2 separate regions of the Homo sapiens genome follow, and region 2 is linked to region 1. Evidence: fine-mapped expression QTL. Tissue or cell type: neutrophils. Region 1 holds a variant in brackets; the other region holds the start of a gene. All regions are shown on one strand. Distances are from middle to middle.

Region 1 (8,327 bases):
CCCCGGCCACTGCACCTGTGGGCAGGTGGGTCAGGGAGGGTCCAGGCACTCAGGATGAACAGAACTCACCTGCCAAGGCTTGGGCTGAGGAGGAGCTGGAATCCCGGAGACACACTGCCCCCGCCCCTCACCACCCCTGTCACTCAGACAGCACACCTCAGAGGCAGAACAGAAAACCCAGAGCCTCACCCAGGCAAGGCTCACGTCCCATTCCCCGCCATGGCACTGACCCGGTCCTCCCAGCTCTGAGGAGCCTCAGATCTCCTGGGTGGCAGGGGTGCAGCTGCATAGCGGCGAAATTCCAAGCCCTGGTTCTGCGTTTGCCTTGTGCTGAAGTTCAGAATGCCTCTGACGCTCACGCACACCAAATGGACAAGGAGGTCCCCTCAGCAGCCCCGTGGGCGGTGCTGAGCTTGAAAGTGGGAGGTTCTGAAGGCATTGGAGGCCTGACTTCTGGACTTCAGAGAGCGTGAAGCTGCCTAGATCGCAAGCTCATTGTGAACTGTTTGCTTGTTCCCTCCAGGCTCTGACTCCAGCCAAAGCATGAATGGCCTTGAAGTGGCTCCCCCAGGTCTGATCACCAACTTCTCCCTGGCCACGGCAGAGCAATGTGGCCAGGAGACGCCACTGGAGAACATGCTGTTCGCCTCCTTCTACCTTCTGGATTTTATCCTGGCTTTAGTTGGCAATACCCTGGCTCTGTGGCTTTTCATCCGAGACCACAAGTCCGGGACCCCGGCCAACGTGTTCCTGATGCATCTGGCCGTGGCCGACTTGTCGTGCGTGCTGGTCCTGCCCACCCGCCTGGTCTACCACTTCTCTGGGAACCACTGGCCATTTGGGGAAATCGCATGCCGTCTCACCGGCTTCCTCTTCTACCTCAACATGTACGCCAGCATCTACTTCCTCACCTGCATCAGCGCCGACCGTTTCCTGGCCATTGTGCACCCGGTCAAGTCCCTCAAGCTCCGCAGGCCCCTCTACGCACACCTGGCCTGTGCCTTCCTGTGGGTGGTGGTGGCTGTGGCCATGGCCCCGCTGCTGGTGAGCCCACAGACCGTGCAGACCAACCACACGGTGGTCTGCCTGCAGCTGTACCGGGAGAAGGCCTCCCACCATGCCCTGGTGTCCCTGGCAGTGGCCTTCACCTTCCCGTTCATCACCACGGTCACCTGCTACCTGCTGATCATCCGCAGCCTGCGGCAGGGCCTGCGTGTGGAGAAGCGCCTCAAGACCAAGGCAGTGCGCATGATCGCCATAGTGCTGGCCATCTTCCTGGTCTGCTTCGTGCCCTACCACGTCAACCGCTCCGTCTACGTGCTGCACTACCGCAGCCATGGGGCCTCCTGCGCCACCCAGCGCATCCTGGCCCTGGCAAACCGCATCACCTCCTGCCTCACCAGCCTCAACGGGGCACTCGACCCCATCATGTATTTCTTCGTGGCTGAGAAGTTCCGCCACGCCCTGTGCAACTTGCTCTGTGGCAAAAGGCTCAAGGGCCCGCCCCCCAGCTTCGAAGGGAAAACCAACGAGAGCTCGCTGAGTGCCAAGTCAGAGCTGTGAGCGGGGGGCGCCGTCCAGGCCGAGCGCAGACTGTTTAGGACTCAGCAGACCCAGCAAGAGGCATCTGCCCTTTCCCCAGCCACCTCCCCAGCAAGCAACCTGAAATCTCAGCAGATGCCCACCATTTCTCTAGATCGCCTAGTCTCAACCCATAAAAAGGAAGAACTGACAAAGGGGATCCATCGGCCACCCCTCTGCAGGGGCTTGTGATGGCTACAATGGCTCCTAGACACTCAACGACTTCATCTGTGGCAGGGAGAGAGGAGGCCGGAAGAACAACCCCTGAACAATGGAGGCCTTTCTTTCCCGCTAGGCTCCCAGCCTCCTTCCCGCTACAGAATCGCTCATCGGCGAGGCTCAGCAGAAAGACCCTGAAGGCAGGCTGCAAATGACCCAGAAGAGGGACCTGGGAGTCCTGGTGGGGACGGGGAGGGAGTCTCAATACTCCTTTGCAGTGCAAGGTACTCTGAGTCCCCTCTGTAGTGCCTCTGCCAGACACACACTGCCTGAGTTGAAGAGACACAGGCCACACATTTCAGGCTGGTTGCCAGCGGACGTCAGCACTCACGGCCTGCAGGGACTCAGCACAGCTCTGGATTCTGGATCTCTCCTGCTGTAACCCCACGCACAAGCCTGCAACCCCCAGAGCTCTTTGACAGGCTCCCAGGCCTCCCAGTCCTGGACAAGCATGTGCAGTCACGGGAGCTCAGCTCAGGCCAGGGCTGGGCTGTGCACCTGCCTCCCACTGACCCAGACCCACTTCCTCCAGAGAGGCCTCTCTCCGCCTGAGCTATTTCCCTTGCTAGTGTGCAGATATTTCCCTAACATGTCCTTTTTTGTATTTGTTTGTACGGACCATAAATATAACTGTAGCTTTAAGACTACACAGGTTGTTATGTTTGGTCAACATGAAGCGTTTCCCAGAACTTCTCTGACCCAAGAATGGTGAAGTGGTGGTACAGTGGCAGAGGCAGCCTCGTGGGCTCTCTTGCTGGGGCTCTGGCAGCTCACAGCACATCTGCCCAGATTCTGAGGTTCTGCACTGTGGGGCTGGGAGGGCCAAGTAGGGGCCCTCATTCCTCACTCTAGCTGCCACCCTGCACCGTCCTTACGGCAACATGCTTTTGTAGCATGTTTGACTTTCCAAAACGTTTCCAGCATCTTTCAGATTTCCCCAACCAGCCCTTGGGGCAGTGGCCCTGTGCAAACCTTGGCTCAGGAAGGAGATTGGGCTCGCTCCACACACCCTGTCGGCGACGTTGCTGGTCAGCACGAGCTCCTGGTGCTGTCCCTCGGCCCCTGCACTGCACCGTCTGCCCCTCAGCCCTTCATTTAGACAAGCTGCTCAATGCCAGGCACCGCCCAGCTCCGAGGACAGTGGGCCGGACGCCAGGCCCCAGGCCACGTGCCTCTCTCACGGGCAGCACACGGACAAGAGCTCGGTAGTGTCGGGGAAGCATCT[C/T]GGAGGAGCTGCGGGAGGGAGCAGAGTGCCCGGACAGAGAGAGTGTGGCAGGGGAAGCATGGCTGGGGCCTCTGGGGGTCGGCGCTGCCTCTCACTGATACAGGGGACGCATGCAGAGGCAGCCTTGGTGGTCAGTGGAGGAGAATCCCAAACTGCTTGTGCCTCATTGCGTTTGGGATGCCTGGTGGACACCAAGTGGAGGTGACATGTGGGCAGCTGAGGACAGCGAGAGAGAGGCCTGAAGTGGAGCCTGGAATTCTCCAGACACATGTGCCATTTAGGGCTCTAGGATTCTGTCTGCAAGGGCAGCCATGAGGGCCGGGCACGGAGCCCCAGACGACTCCCCATGGAGAGACAGGGAGAAAGGTGACTCAGAGGAGGGGAGTGAGCAGGTGCAGCTGTGGGGGCGGGCAGAACCACAGGAACTCAGGGTCCCGGGTGCCAGAAGGGGGGCGTTTCTGCACCTCAGCAGCTGTGGTGAGGGCTGCTGAGGGGTCAAGAGGAGGTGTGGGTCCCTGGGCAGATGAGGCCAGGGTAGCACACGCGAGGGGCAGCGGGTGTGCTGGGAGAAGCCGGGGAGGAAGGCCCAGCAGTGTTTTTAACCCAGCTCCCCAGCCCAGTCCTTCAGAAAGGACGAGAGAGTGGCGTGGAGAAGCAAGCCCTGGAGAAAGTGTGGGGATGAACAGGGCTCACAGACAGAGGCCGGGCTGCACGGGATCTCAGAGCTAGGGCCAGGGGAGGTGGGAGACAAGGCCACCTGCTATAGGGACAGTGCTTGGGAAGGGAGGATGAGAGACCAAGGGTTCGCAGAAGGTGGGAACTTCTGGAGTACCCATGAGGTTTGTGGCCCTCAATTTAGAGTAAATGTGGGCATCTCCCTCCAGCCACACTGAGCTGCACAGGTACAGGCAGGAGAAGGTGGACAGGTGGGGTCAGTAGATGGGGTGGCCAGGGGGGTGGCAGAGTGTGAGGATTTCTCATGGCTCCCGAGAGGCTGCCAGGAGCTCGCTGAGCGTGGGGCCCTGTAAACTGGGAGCTGGACTATCCGCCCCGGGGTGACCTGGAGGGAGGGCAGCTACATCAGTGCAGGCTGCAGCACCGGGACCCTTCTGCGCCCTCAGCAAGTGGGTAGCACACAGGAGAGGTGGCAGGTGTGCCAGGAAGGGCTGTGGCCCAGTCCTCTCTGGCCCAACACGGCCACCTCACCTGCCGGCATTCTTCACAAAGCCCAGGTCAGCCAGCTCCACATCACACAGCTCGCAGCGGAAGCAGCCCGGGTGCCAGTTGTTGTTCATGGCCTTGATGACGCGGCCAATGATGAACTCACCTGGAAGAAGACAGGTCCCTGCTGGCTGGGGAGCACGTGCCTGTCCCCTCTTCGGACCCTCCCAAGCCCTGTCCACCTAGCACTCCGCCTGCTCTCTGCCTGGCCCATGGGCTCCCTCGTGGGATGGTGATGCCTGTAGGGGGCCTGACGGCTGCCGCTCAGAGAGGCAAGGTGGGGAGTTAGGAAAGAGCTGGGCCAGTTCTGTGTACCCCCTCGGCCCCCTGCCCCCCGCCACTGCTGCCCACTTCCCAGGCAGCCCAGGATGTGTACTGTCACCGGCCTTACCGCAGGATCCACAGCACGGAGCAAACAGCATTTGGAAGTCGTGTTCGCAGTACTTCCGGCCTTCAAACTGCAAAGGGGTCGCAGAGAGAGGACAAGCAAACCACCTATCATCCCCATGAGCAGCCCAGGCCCTTGTTGGGTCAGGACCTGACAGCAGGGGATGAGGCACTGAGGCAGGGGCATGCCGGGCTGAGGCTGGAGCAGTGGGTCCCAGGCCTGGCCAGAGAGGACACTGGCCCTTTTGGGATGGTGGGGTGCAAAGGGAGGTGCCCCCGTGGAAGCTGGAGAGGTCCGTGAGGCCACCTGTCAAAGGGCCACTGGTGTCTACTGAGGATCTGGACCCTGTTGGTCCGGAGAACAGGCTGGGGGCGAGGCGGTTTTAAGCCAGGAGGGATGAGATCCAGTCTGAAGTGTAGTGTCACTTGGTCCTATTTCGTATACCTTCTCTGTGGGAGTATCCAGCTCTCTCAGAGGCCATGAAGACCCGGGTATAGGAGACAGAAGGAAGGGAACGCAGGAAGGGCCTGGGCACGGGGAAGTGGGAAGAGCTCAGGGCTGCGGCCAGCAGGAGCCAGTGTGCACACCCTCCAGGCGGCAGCTGCCAGCGAGGGCCCCTGTGCTGGCCACAAGCGGGGCCAAAGCCTGCCTCTGCTTTCCTCTAACAATTGTATTTTCTGTTTTTTAATTGGTTTTTCCCTGTTCTCTAAAATGAGTGTCTTATTAGACTAAACTGGATATAGCCCTACCCAGTGACCTGTAGAGTCAGGAAGGGCTTAAACTCTTTCAGCAATGAAAATCTTCTGGGCACCTGCTGTGTGTGAGAGAGAGAGGCTTTGTTCTGGGCATATGGCCACCCCTCCTAGAGCTTTGCCCACCCCTCCCGCTGCCTCTACACTTAGACAGCATTCCTCAGGAGGCTGAAGACACTGTGAGGAACAGCGGCTCTTGCTCTGCCAGGCGGACCACAGGCCCCACATCCATCCACCAGCCAGTCCCATCAGCTCTACCTTGAAACAGAGCCAGCATCTGACCCCTGGCCACCACCGCCACCACAAGCACAAGTGATGTTCTGGTAAATGCTCAACAGCCAGCTCTCTGGGGCGCAGAGGCAGGCCCTGCTGTGGGGCGTTTGCCAGTGTCCATGGTGTGAATATTCCCGTCATGGCCAACTCCTGGCTGCCAACATGACATCGATGTGGACTTGAGGGGAGATGTGCAGTGGCCACACCAGCACAATGGACAGAAATAACCCCATCAGCATAGACGATAGTAAAGTGGAACAAAATAATTAGCAAGTGGTATGCTTTGAGTATTTGTTACCTTTGTTTTTAATAAAATTGTATCCCATTGTACGCTGATATAATTTAATTTTTAAACAATAACTCTGTTGCCCAACCAGCTCCCAAGATTGTTGATGATTTAACGACTGCTCCTGTGAGCTGGTGGGGGCCCCTTCACTTTCATCTGGGTGATTGCACTAATTCAGCTCCTGGTCCCCCCAGCCTCCTGGCCCAGCCTCTGTTCCTGCCCCGCCTTACATCCTCTCCTCAGCACAGCGGCCACAAGCCTCCTTTTTTTTTTCTTTCTTTTTTTTTTTTTTTTTAGATGGAGTCTTGCTCTGTCCCACAGGCTGGAGTGCAATGGCGCGATCTCGGCTCACTGCAACCTCTGCCTCCCAGGTTCAAGTGATTCTCCTGCCTCAGCCTCCCGAGTAGCTGGGATTACAGGCACCTGCCACCATGCCAGGCTCATTTTTTGTATTTTTAGTACAGACAGGGTTTCACCATGTTGGCCAGGCTGGTCTTGAACTCCTGACCTCAGGTGATCCATCTGCCTCCGCCTCCCAAAGTGCTGGGATTACAGGCGTGAGCCGCCGCGCCCGGCCAGGTCACCTTTTCAAATGTCAGCAGATAGTGTGACTCCTCTGCTCCACACCCCGAGGTGGCTCCTGCCTCTTGCAGAGGGGAAGCCTATGGCTCCGTAGAGGCCCGTGGGGCCAAGCGAGATCCACCTCCCTTTCCTCAGCTCCTGGCCTTCTCCCTCTCATGCCCTCGGCTTCCATCACACCAGTCTTCCTACTGCTCTCCATACACCCCATGTTCTCCCACCACAGGGTATGTGCATATGCGGTGCCCTCTGCCCAGTATGTCTCCCTCCCCTCAGGTGTGCCCAAACCTCACCTTCCCTGAGCACCACCGCACCCCACCCCGGGAACCCTGACCCCCAGGGCATCAGCACCAGCTGGTGGGCCATGCGGTTGCTGTGCTCACTGTCTAGTCCCCAGGGAGGGCAAGCACCACCAGGGCAGGCTCTTCCTGCCCCCAGGGCCTGCCCAGCATCTGCCCAGAGGAGGCTGGTGAAAGGTGGCTCTCTGTTAGCACCCAGGGCACCTGGGGTGCTGTTCACATCTCACAGGTGAAGGATGGGCCCGTGCAGGAGCTCAAGCCTGGTTCTGGGCTGGCTCCAGACCTGGCCCTGTCACCAGTCGGGACCACTGCATGGAGCCCGGCCCACCCGCTCATAGAGGGCAGACTCCGAGCTGGGTCTGAGAAAGCCCTCAGTAGTGTCCTCACCTCATAGAAGAGCCCCTCGGGGAAGGGCCGGAAGCACTGGGCACACACGAAGCAGTGCTCATGGTACAGCTCCCCATTGCTGTTGACAATGCGCTCGGCGGGGGAGAAGCGGGCCTGGCAGCGCTGGCACACGGCGTTGGCCAAGGCGTCCGACATATTGCTGGGGGCAGGAGACAGGAGGAGTGAGTCAGAGCTGGTCAGGGGTGCAGATGGGGCACACGCGGGGGCCTGCGCCCGACAGACACACCTCGTATTAAAAAGTGAAGACGCTCTGCAGGATCAGGAAAATCGCTCTAACCCAGGGTCCAGGCTGCTCAGTGCTTGTAGTGCCCACCCCTTGGGGTGTCAGGGGCCCAGTCAACTCCCACTTGGGCCCCTATTACCCCTTCTTCAGGGACCAGAGAGTCTCGCACACAGAACACCACCCAGCACAGGTGAGCGGCTCTGTATTCACACTCTCATTTAATCCCCAGGGCAATACTGCAGCTACTATTATTATGGCCTCTTCCAGAAAAGGGACCTAAGCCTCAAAGAGGTTGAGTAACTTGCCCAAGCTCACACAGCAGAGCGGGGTCCACACTTGAATCCAGACTGCTCAGTCTTCCATGGTTCCATCCTCTGCACCATGAGTTAGTTTCAAACTGACTGCCTCCAATAAACACATAACCACCCAAACACAGAGCAGGCAAGAGGGTAGCTGGGTGCGTGTGCAGAATGGCTCAAGCCTGTCATCCAGAGCACTGTGGGAGGCCAAGGTGGGCGGATCCCTTGAGCCCAGGAGTTCGAGACCAGCCTGGGCAATATGGCAAGAATCCATCTCTAATAAAAATACAAGAAAACAAAAAAATTAGCCAGGTGTGGTGGTGCAAGCCTGTAGTCTCAGCTACTCTGGAGGCTGAAGTGGGAGGATGGCTTGAGCCTGGGAGGCCGAGGCTGAGTGCCACTGCACTCAGGCCTGGGCAACAGAGCAAGACCCTGTCTCAAAATAAAAAATAAATAAAAAAGACAAGAGTATGAATCTTTGAGACGAGACGGGAGTGTGGTGAGGGGGAGCAAATCTCATCCATACTGGGCACTGCCTGTCCCCAGAGTCAGTGGTGGGTTTCCTTCTGGGAGG
Region 2 (8,327 bases), 160 kb after region 1:
CGCAACCACACCCGGCTAATTTTTGTATTTTTAGTAGAGACGAGGTTACACAATGTTGGCCAGGCTGGTCTCAAACTCCTGACCTCAGGTGATCTGCTCACCTCAGCCTCCCAAGTGCTGGGATTACAGGCGTGAGCCACTGCGCCCGGCCTCTCTTTAGTTGTTTTCACTCCATTCCTGCCTTAGCTATGAATTTAAAGTAAAACCAGCCCAGAATCTTGCCAGAGACTGCTCTTTGGTCTTTGTTCTACCCTAAACTCTGTGTAACCTAGAATTAAACCAACTCTTCAACAACTGTGGAACAAAGCCAAAAAAAAATAGAACTACACCAACTCATTCGAAAAAAAAAAAAAGATGATGCTAAAGATTTCATGCTAATTGCCTTAGGTATGATAATGATTTTATATGTTTTCAGCTGGAGACTGGCTTGAAATAAAAATGTAGAAAAGCGTAGGAAAAAGCATTATTTCAAAGACATGCATCCTGAGGTATTACAGGGAAAAGCAGTATATCTGCAATTTAATTTCAAATCATTCAAGAAAGGGAGGATATAGAGTTAAAGCAAAATGGTTAAATGTTGGTTAACAGTCGAATCCAAACAGAAGGCATATGGGTGTTCACTGTAGTATTCTTTCACCTTTGCTGCATGTTTGAAATTTTTTTTTTTAAGACGGCATTTCACTCTTGTTGCCCAGGCTGAAGTACAATGCGCAATCTCAGCTCACTGCAACCTCCGCCTCCAAGGTTGAAGCAATTCTCTTGCCTCAGCTTCCCAAGTAGCTGGGATTACAGGAATGTGCCACCACGCCCAGCTAATTTTTTTTGTATTTAGTAGGGATGGGGTTTCACCATGTTGGCCAGGCTGGTCTTGAACTCCTGACCTCAGGTGATCCACCTGCCTCGGCCTCCCAAAGTGCTGGGATTACAGATGTGAGCCACTGCACCTGGCTTGAAATTTCTTAAAGTTGCAAAAAAGTTACCAGAATATTCCATATACCAAAAAAGGAAAATTGCTGCTCCACCTACTAAGTTGAGAGCAAACAGAGTAGAGAGCAGGTGCCTATAACAACAAACTGCCTAAAGCACAGTTTTGCACGTATCATCCCACTCAAGGATCTGCTCAAAATGGTAAGGCATAGAGGCAGGTACTAATGGGACACAAAGTAACAGAAGGCAGTCACACAGACACTAGACTAACTAAACAAGTTATGAATAAATGAGAGTCACTGAAGACCTCATTAATTGGATTTAGCTGGATTTTAAGGACTGAACAGAATAGGAATAGTGTGAAAGGAAGGAGAATACAATCTAGGCAAAGAGTTAATAAGCAACAGCCAAAGATCAGAAATAAACCAAGTCATGAGGGGAATTTTTGTAGAAAATTCATTCTTCAATTTGTATAATGCCTAGGTTTTAGGAATACAAAAATATAAGGTACTATAGCACGTCTTCAACGTGCTCACAAAGAGCTGGCAGCAGGGACTCATGACTCCCAAGACTTTGAAAGGCTGAAGTGGGAGGATCGCTTGAGCCTAGGAATTAGAGGCTACAGTGAGCCATGATCATGCCACTGTATTCCAGCCTGGGTGACAAAGTGAGACCCTGTCTCAGAAAACAAACAAACAAACTAAAAACCAAAGTATTCACAAGTAGTGGAGAAGGTATAGTCAAAATACATTAAAGATATATACAAAATGCTTTAATAGCAGAGAAAGGAGTGATTAACTTATCAGAGGAATGAGATTGTCAGTAAATTTCAACAAAGATATTTGAGTTAATGTTTAAAACTGAAAATGATGTCACCAATTAAATTCATCACAGAAAGAAAAAAAATGTTAACATTTAAAGAATGCCTACTATATATGAGGCACTTTTTACCTTTAGGTTTTATAGTTAACATTCTTATATACAAAGAAACTGAAGCTTAGAGAGTTTAATTAACTGACCCAATATAAAAAAGGTAGTTAATGGTGAGCCTGGCATTCAAACCTAGGTCCATTTGCTGCTGAAACCCATACATGCCCTTTCCAATACTACCTAGCTCTGGGAATTTATAAGCACACAAATCATGAGTACAAGATACAATACAACTTTAGAAAGTCAGTCACTACCAGAAAATTAGTAAAATGTTTAAGGGCCAGACAGATGAGAGTAGCACTGCTCAGATTTTCCAATACACTGAAGAGCTTCAGTCTCTAGGACTAATGTAAATGGTTTGAAATGGGGAGATAAATGTTACCAAAGAAAAATCATTTTCAGCAGAGCGCGGTGGCTCATGCCTGTAATCCCAGCACTTTGGGAGGCCCAGACAGGTGGATCATTTGAGGTCAGGAGTTTGAGACCAGCCTGGCCAACATGGTGAAACCCCGCCTCTACTAAAAAATACAAAAATTGGCCAGGTGCGGTGGCTCACGCCTGTAATCCCAGCACTTTGGGAGGCCGAGATGGGCGGATCACGAGGTCAGGAGATCGAGACCATCCTAGCTAACACGGTGAAATCCCGTCTCTACTAAAAATACAAAAAATTAGCCGGACGCGGTGGCGGGCGCCTATAGTCCCAGCTACTCGGGAGGCTCAGGCAGGAGAATGGCGTGAACCCGGGAGGCGGAGCTTGCAGCGAGCCAAAGATCGCGCCACTGCACTCCAGCCTGGGCGACAGAGCGAAACTCTTGTCTCAAAAAAAAAAAAAAAAAAAAAAGAATTCCAGAAACACATTTATAAGTGAAAATTTTTCACTAATATCTTTGTCGTAATCATAAAGCTTTTCTGTAACCTTACTATCCTATTCTGAAATATGAAGCAGTTCAAACTTCAGCCATAATCAAATAATATTCCACCGCAAAGTAATGGGAAAAGTATATGAACTTATTACTTAGCAAAGAGAGCTCTGAATAAATACCTTAAGTGCTTAGTAAAAATATAATTAAAGCCTTACGTCAATATAAAACCGTGATGGCAAAATCTGTTTAGTATTTTTCACCAACCAAAGAAAATTATCCAAGTTAAGCCATCAGCTTCACAGATAAACATTTATTTTTGTCTAAACCATTGTAATATATGTAAGCCAAATTCCTTTTTTTTTTTTTTTTTTTTTTTTTGAGACGGAGTCTCGCTCTGTTGCCCAGGCTAGAGTGCAATGGCGCGATCTTGGCTCACTGCAACCTCTGCCTCCGGGGTTCAAGTGATTCTCTTGCCTCAGCCTCCCGAGTAGCTGGGATTACAGGCGCCCACCACCACACCCAGCTAATTTTTGTATTTTTAGTAGAGACGGGGTTCCGCCATGTTGGTCAGGCTGGTCTCGAACTCCTGACCTCAGGTGATCCGCCCACCCTGGCGTCCCAAAGTGCTGGGATTACAGGCGTGAGCCACCGCGCCCGGCCATAAGCCAACTTTCTACCAAAATTCTTCCTAGGAGTACAGGAAAGACAAGTTAAAATTTCTCCCCAAGTTTCAAGAAGATAGTCTAAATATGGAACTTCAAGTCTCAGCAAAAACTCAAATCTATACAATATTTTATCTTCTCCCGGTCAAGGAGACAAAAAAAGCAAAAGTATCTTACAGTAATAAAAAATGGGTAAAATGCAATTAAGGCGAGGAAATGAAAAATGCCACAAGAGGTACAACTAGCATAACTGTCACTAAAAGGTTTGAATTAAGTAGGTTTACCACTGCACCATATTCACAGGCTATATATACATACACACACACATATATACACATATATATGTATATATAGCATGCATTAGCTCTCCAGAGTGTACTAAAAAAGTAAAGTCTACGCTCCCCAGAGTTGTTCCTTTCAGTGCAGGCTTTTTGTTCATATTCTAATGTCTTCCAAAGTTCCTGAACAGTCAACTTAAGATCATGTGTGTAGAAACTACTTTAAAACATTCTTGACAGGCTTTCTACAAGTAGCCCGTATTTTTCTGATTTGATTTAAATAGATCCAATTACGGAATTCCCTACCGACCTGCCGCCGCCGCCTCCTCCTTACTCCGGAAGGGGCCACTAATCCCAAGGGTTACAACCAAGTACAAACATTCATTGTCATTTCTTTTAAGAAGGCATGCTAAGATCCTCACTACTTAGTTGCCAGAAGACAACTTAAAATCAGAAACAGGGATCTAGCACAAACCAAATAGAAATACAACTATTCCAAAAAAGCAGGGCTTTGCCTGTCAAGCTGTAGCCTCATCCTTATAATAAGCACCGATTTCAAGCCACGATAACATCACGGCTAAGTCTTCAGCTGTTTTGCAGATTTCACGTTAACTTCCCTTGACCCTTTCAACCAACTACTTCAACTCGGCCCACTTCTTTCCACTCCCGCCCCAAACCTCAGTTAAAATGCATTTCCCTCCAAACTTCACGTCTTAACTGTGGCCTGACTTACGTCTTCTCGTCGCCACCGCTCCCAGTCAGGGCCTTAGTTCTAACCATGGCCGCTTTTCCCGGTTGGCCTCCAGCCTCCAGCCCCCTCCCATAAGTCTCGAACCTGCCTCGAACAGCCGCCCCGAGGTCGATTCTCCCAGTTCCTCCAACCTGTGCCCAGGCGCCCGTCCAGGCCCCCAAAGCACGCAACGGCCGAGCCCGAAAATGGCGGAGAGTGCCGCTGCCTGCTGCAGGCGAGCAGTCCCGTGTCGCCGCCGCACTCACCGTCTGGCTTTGAGCAGAGCTCCTAAATGGCCAGCGAAGCGTTCGCCTTCAGAGCCAGAAATGTCTCTCTTGTTTGGTCTCCCCACCCCGATCCTCTCAATCCCGCTCCTCCAAAGGAGCAGCCGCCATCTTCCCCTATGGGCCACCGAACGCACGCTCTGGGGTCATCACGCACTGGCGGGACGGCGCTACGTCACGCGCGCCTGGACCGCGGGCCTCTGTGAGGTTCGATCTGCGCATGTGCCTAGGTGAGGTGCCGAGCCGCGAGACCCTGCAGAGCGCTTCCTTTGTTCCGGAGCGAGTAGGACGCGCTACCTCCTGGAGGAAAGAAGCGACTGCGTTTCGCAGTGCTGACTTTTTTTTACAGTGTGAGCTAACGTGTATGCTCTGAAAAACACCCCGTTTTCCAGTATGTGAATGAGTATATTTGTACGGGGCCAGTACGGCAGACATAGCGGGTCGTTGGACCGAGCCCACCGAGAGTGGATCTGTGGGAAGCCACTGTGGCACCTTGCTGAGTCTGTTCACCCGTGCAGCTAGCTGGTGGCAGCCCTGGCAGATCCCGGCACACAGTCAGGCTCCACGCCTTACCCGAGCCAGTTGTGCCTCTAGATTACGCCTCGCTTAAAGTCCAGCGACCAAGATAGAAAAACAGCCCCACGATGCAACCATTTTGGAAAACCGCTGCAGTTTCTGCCAAAGCTAAATGTACGCTTACCTTGTGACCCCAGAAATTTCACTTCAAGAGGAATGAGTGCATACGTCCACCAAAGGCATGTGCAAGAATGTCCATAGCACGTTTATTCGTAGTAGTAAAAAACTGGTAACCTAAATGTCCATCAGCAGTTGAGTGGCTAAATTGTGGTGTATCATACAGTGGATTTCTACAGAGAAATAGGAAGTTACGGATAAACGCAACAGCCTGAACGAATAGCAGCTACTGTTAACTTAGGCACAAAGAAGAGGACGCTGTATGATTCCATTTTGATGAGGTTCAAAATATAACTGCACAGCAAGTTGTTCTCCAGTATGAATCAGGAATCGTACCAGCCTGGGGAACATGGCGAGATCCCATCTTTGCGCGTCGGGGTGCGTTCCTGTGACCGCCTTCCTGTGATCGTTCCTGTGATGGGTACTTGGGAGACTGGGGTGGGAGGATCACTTGAGCCCAGGAGTTGGAGGGCGCAGTGAGCCAAGATCGTGCCAGTGCACTTAAGTCTTGGAAGCAGAGTAAGACCCTGTCTCAAAGAAGTCTTACTTTTGACTCCATAATCCCCTTCCAAAAATCTATTCTAAGGATAGCCTCAGAGATGTGAGTAAGATTTGTGTACTAATCTTTGAGGTATTAATGATAGCAAAAAAAAAAGGAAACAGTAGCAGACAGTGATTAAATAATGGCACATCCATACGTAGACTATCATGCAGACATTACACAGTATCTAAAGTTTTTATGATAACATCAGAAATGTTTATAAACTTCTATATTTTTTCTTTTTTTAGAGACAAGGTCTCTCACCCAGGGTGATCATAACTCACTGCAGCCTCAACCTCCCGGGCTCAAGTGATCCTCTCACCTCAGCCTCCCTAGTAGCTCAGACTAATGACCTGTACCAGGACACCCATACCCAGCTAATTTTAGTAGAGACTGTCAGGCCTCAGAGCCCAAGCTAAGCCATCATATCCCCAGTGACTTGCACGTATACATCCAGATGGCCTGAAGCAACTGAAGATCCACAAAAGTGAAAATAGCCTTAACTGATGACATTCCACCATTGTAATTTGTTTCTGCCCCACCCTAACTGATCAATGTACTTTGTAATTTCCCCGACCCTTAAGAAGGTTCTTTATAATTCTCCCACCCTTGAGAATGTACTTTGTGAGATCCACCCCCTGCCCACAAAACATTGCTCCAAACTCCAATGCCTATCCCAAAACCTGTAAGAACTAATGATAATCCCACCACCCTTTGCTGACTCTCTTTTCGGACTCAGCCCACCTGCACCCAGGTGAAATAAACAGCCTTGTTGCTCACACAAAGCCTGTTTGGTGGTCTCTTCACACGGACACGTGAGACAGAGACAAGATCTGATTATGTTGCCCAGGGCGGTCTCAAACTCCTGGGTTCAAGCAATCCTCCTGCCTCAGCCTCCCAAAGTGCTGGGATTACAGGCCATGCGCCACCACGCCCAGCCCCTATAATCTTATTTTGATATGTGTCTAGAAATATGTAAGGAGGCCAGACAATTCCAGTTCTGTGTGATGAGCTTAGGTTAGGATGGAAGGAAGCCATGGACACCCTGAGTGCAAGGCAGGAAAGCCAGGATAGAAGGCAGGATTCTCAAGGGCTGAAGGTAGGGAATGGGGTCAGGAAGGTAACGCTAAGAAGTCCGCTCATCAATTGGGTTTAGAAGTTAGGCAGAAAAGACAAGCAAGTGGTCAGTTCCTAGAAATTATACTGGGAGTGGTAGAGGAGGCATTCAGGCAGTGTCCTGATCCCTGAAAATCTTTAAAATGTACTGAATTGGAGGAGCAGTCTAATCAAGGGCAAAAATCCTTCACACCTGTAACCTCACAGGCCCCTTCCTGGAAAATTGTTTTTTAAATTGACCAGGAGACAAATGAATCTGTTAAGTATACTGCAAGGATGCAGTCAGCCATATTCTATATTTTATAAAATTTTACATGTGATACATTTTCTTCCAATAAAAATTTAAAAACTGAGGAAAGAAACTGTTAGAGATTATCTGTTACAGGTTAGAGACTTAAGAGGCATATCAACCAAATGGAATGTGTACTCCCTATTTGGGTCCCAATTGAACAAACTGGGGGGAAAAGACATTTTAAAGAGTTTTTAAATTTGTTATATGTAACAACTATATTTTCATTATTTATTTATTTATTTTGAGACGGAGTCTTGCTCTGTCGCCCAGGCTGGAGTGCAGTGGCGCGATCTCAGCTCACTGCAACCTCCGCCTCCCAGGTTCAAGTAATTCTTCTGCCTCAGCCTCCTGAGTAGTTGGAATTACAGGCTTGCACCATCATACCCGGCTAATTTTTGTATTTTTAGTAGAGACGGGGTTTCACTATCTTGGCCAGGCTGGTCTTGAATTCCTTACCTTGTGATGCACCTGCCTCGGCCTCCCAAAGTGCTGGGATTACAGGCGTGAGCCACTGCGCCCGGCCTTTTCATTAATTTTTTAAAATCTTTACCTGTTGGCTGGGCACCGTGGCTCACACCTGTAATCCCAGTACTTTGGGAGGCTGAGGTGGGTGGATCACATGAGGTCAGGATTTCAAGACCAACCTGGTCAACGTGGTGAAATCCCATCTCTACTAAAAATACAAAAAAAAAAAAAAAAAATAGCTGGGCATGGTGGTGGGCACCTGTAATCCCAGCTACTCAGGAGGCTGAGGCAGCAGAATCGCTTGAACCCCGGAGGCGGAAGTTGCAGTGAGCCAAGATTGTGTCACTTCATTCCAGCCTGGGCAACAAAGCAAGACTCCATCTCAAAAATAAATAAGTAAAATCTTTACCTGTTGTGTCCTGAAGTATGTATGAGTTAAATGATATGATGTCTGGAATTGGCTTTAAGTGATTCCAGCCAAGCACATCAGCAGAAATGGTTGAGTAAGAACATCTGAAAATCTTCTCCTTCATAAAAGCCACAAAA

Alleles and levels. Alleles are on the strand shown, and positions count from the first base shown. SD is a standard deviation of normalised expression in the study named.
For the expression in neutrophils of the gene that starts at base 4,816 in region 2, C is the high allele of the variant in region 1 and T is the other (moderate effect, 0.68 SD a copy in BLUEPRINT).

Evidence for each region. PIP is the estimated chance that this variant, and not a neighbour inherited with it, causes the effect.
Region 2: it holds the start of WDR33, and the variant in region 1 is fine-mapped to the expression of WDR33 in neutrophils (BLUEPRINT, PIP 0.95).

Annotation. Positions count from the first base shown.
Region 1 is chr2:127,650,193-127,658,519 of GRCh38, forward strand. It overlaps LIMS2 (LIM zinc finger domain containing 2), which reads right to left. Exons shown (of 10, transcript NM_001161403.3): 2 at 7,211-7,370; 3 at 4,638-4,704; 4 at 4,232-4,352. It overlaps GPR17 (G protein-coupled receptor 17), which reads left to right. Exons shown (of 2, transcript NM_001161417.2): 2 at 524-2,447. The coding sequence starts at 544. The coding sequence ends at 1,563. Among named protein-coding and RNA genes, the nearest start is that of GPR17, 8.2 kb to the left of the region's middle. RefSeq lists enhancers at 222-949, 950-1,675, 2,095-2,154, 2,195-2,274. The variant C/T (reference allele first, on the strand shown) is at 3,026.
Region 2 is chr2:127,806,356-127,814,682 of GRCh38, forward strand. WDR33 (WD repeat domain 33) reads right to left here and starts at 4,816. Exons shown (of 22, transcript NM_018383.5): 1 at 4,657-4,816. LOC124907885 (a long non-coding RNA gene) reads left to right here and starts at 4,896. Exons shown (of 2, transcript XR_007087230.1): 1 at 4,896-5,788; 2 at 6,157-7,377. RefSeq lists enhancers at 2,891-3,798, 3,881-4,821, 4,228-4,307, 4,388-4,467, 4,488-4,777 and 1 more.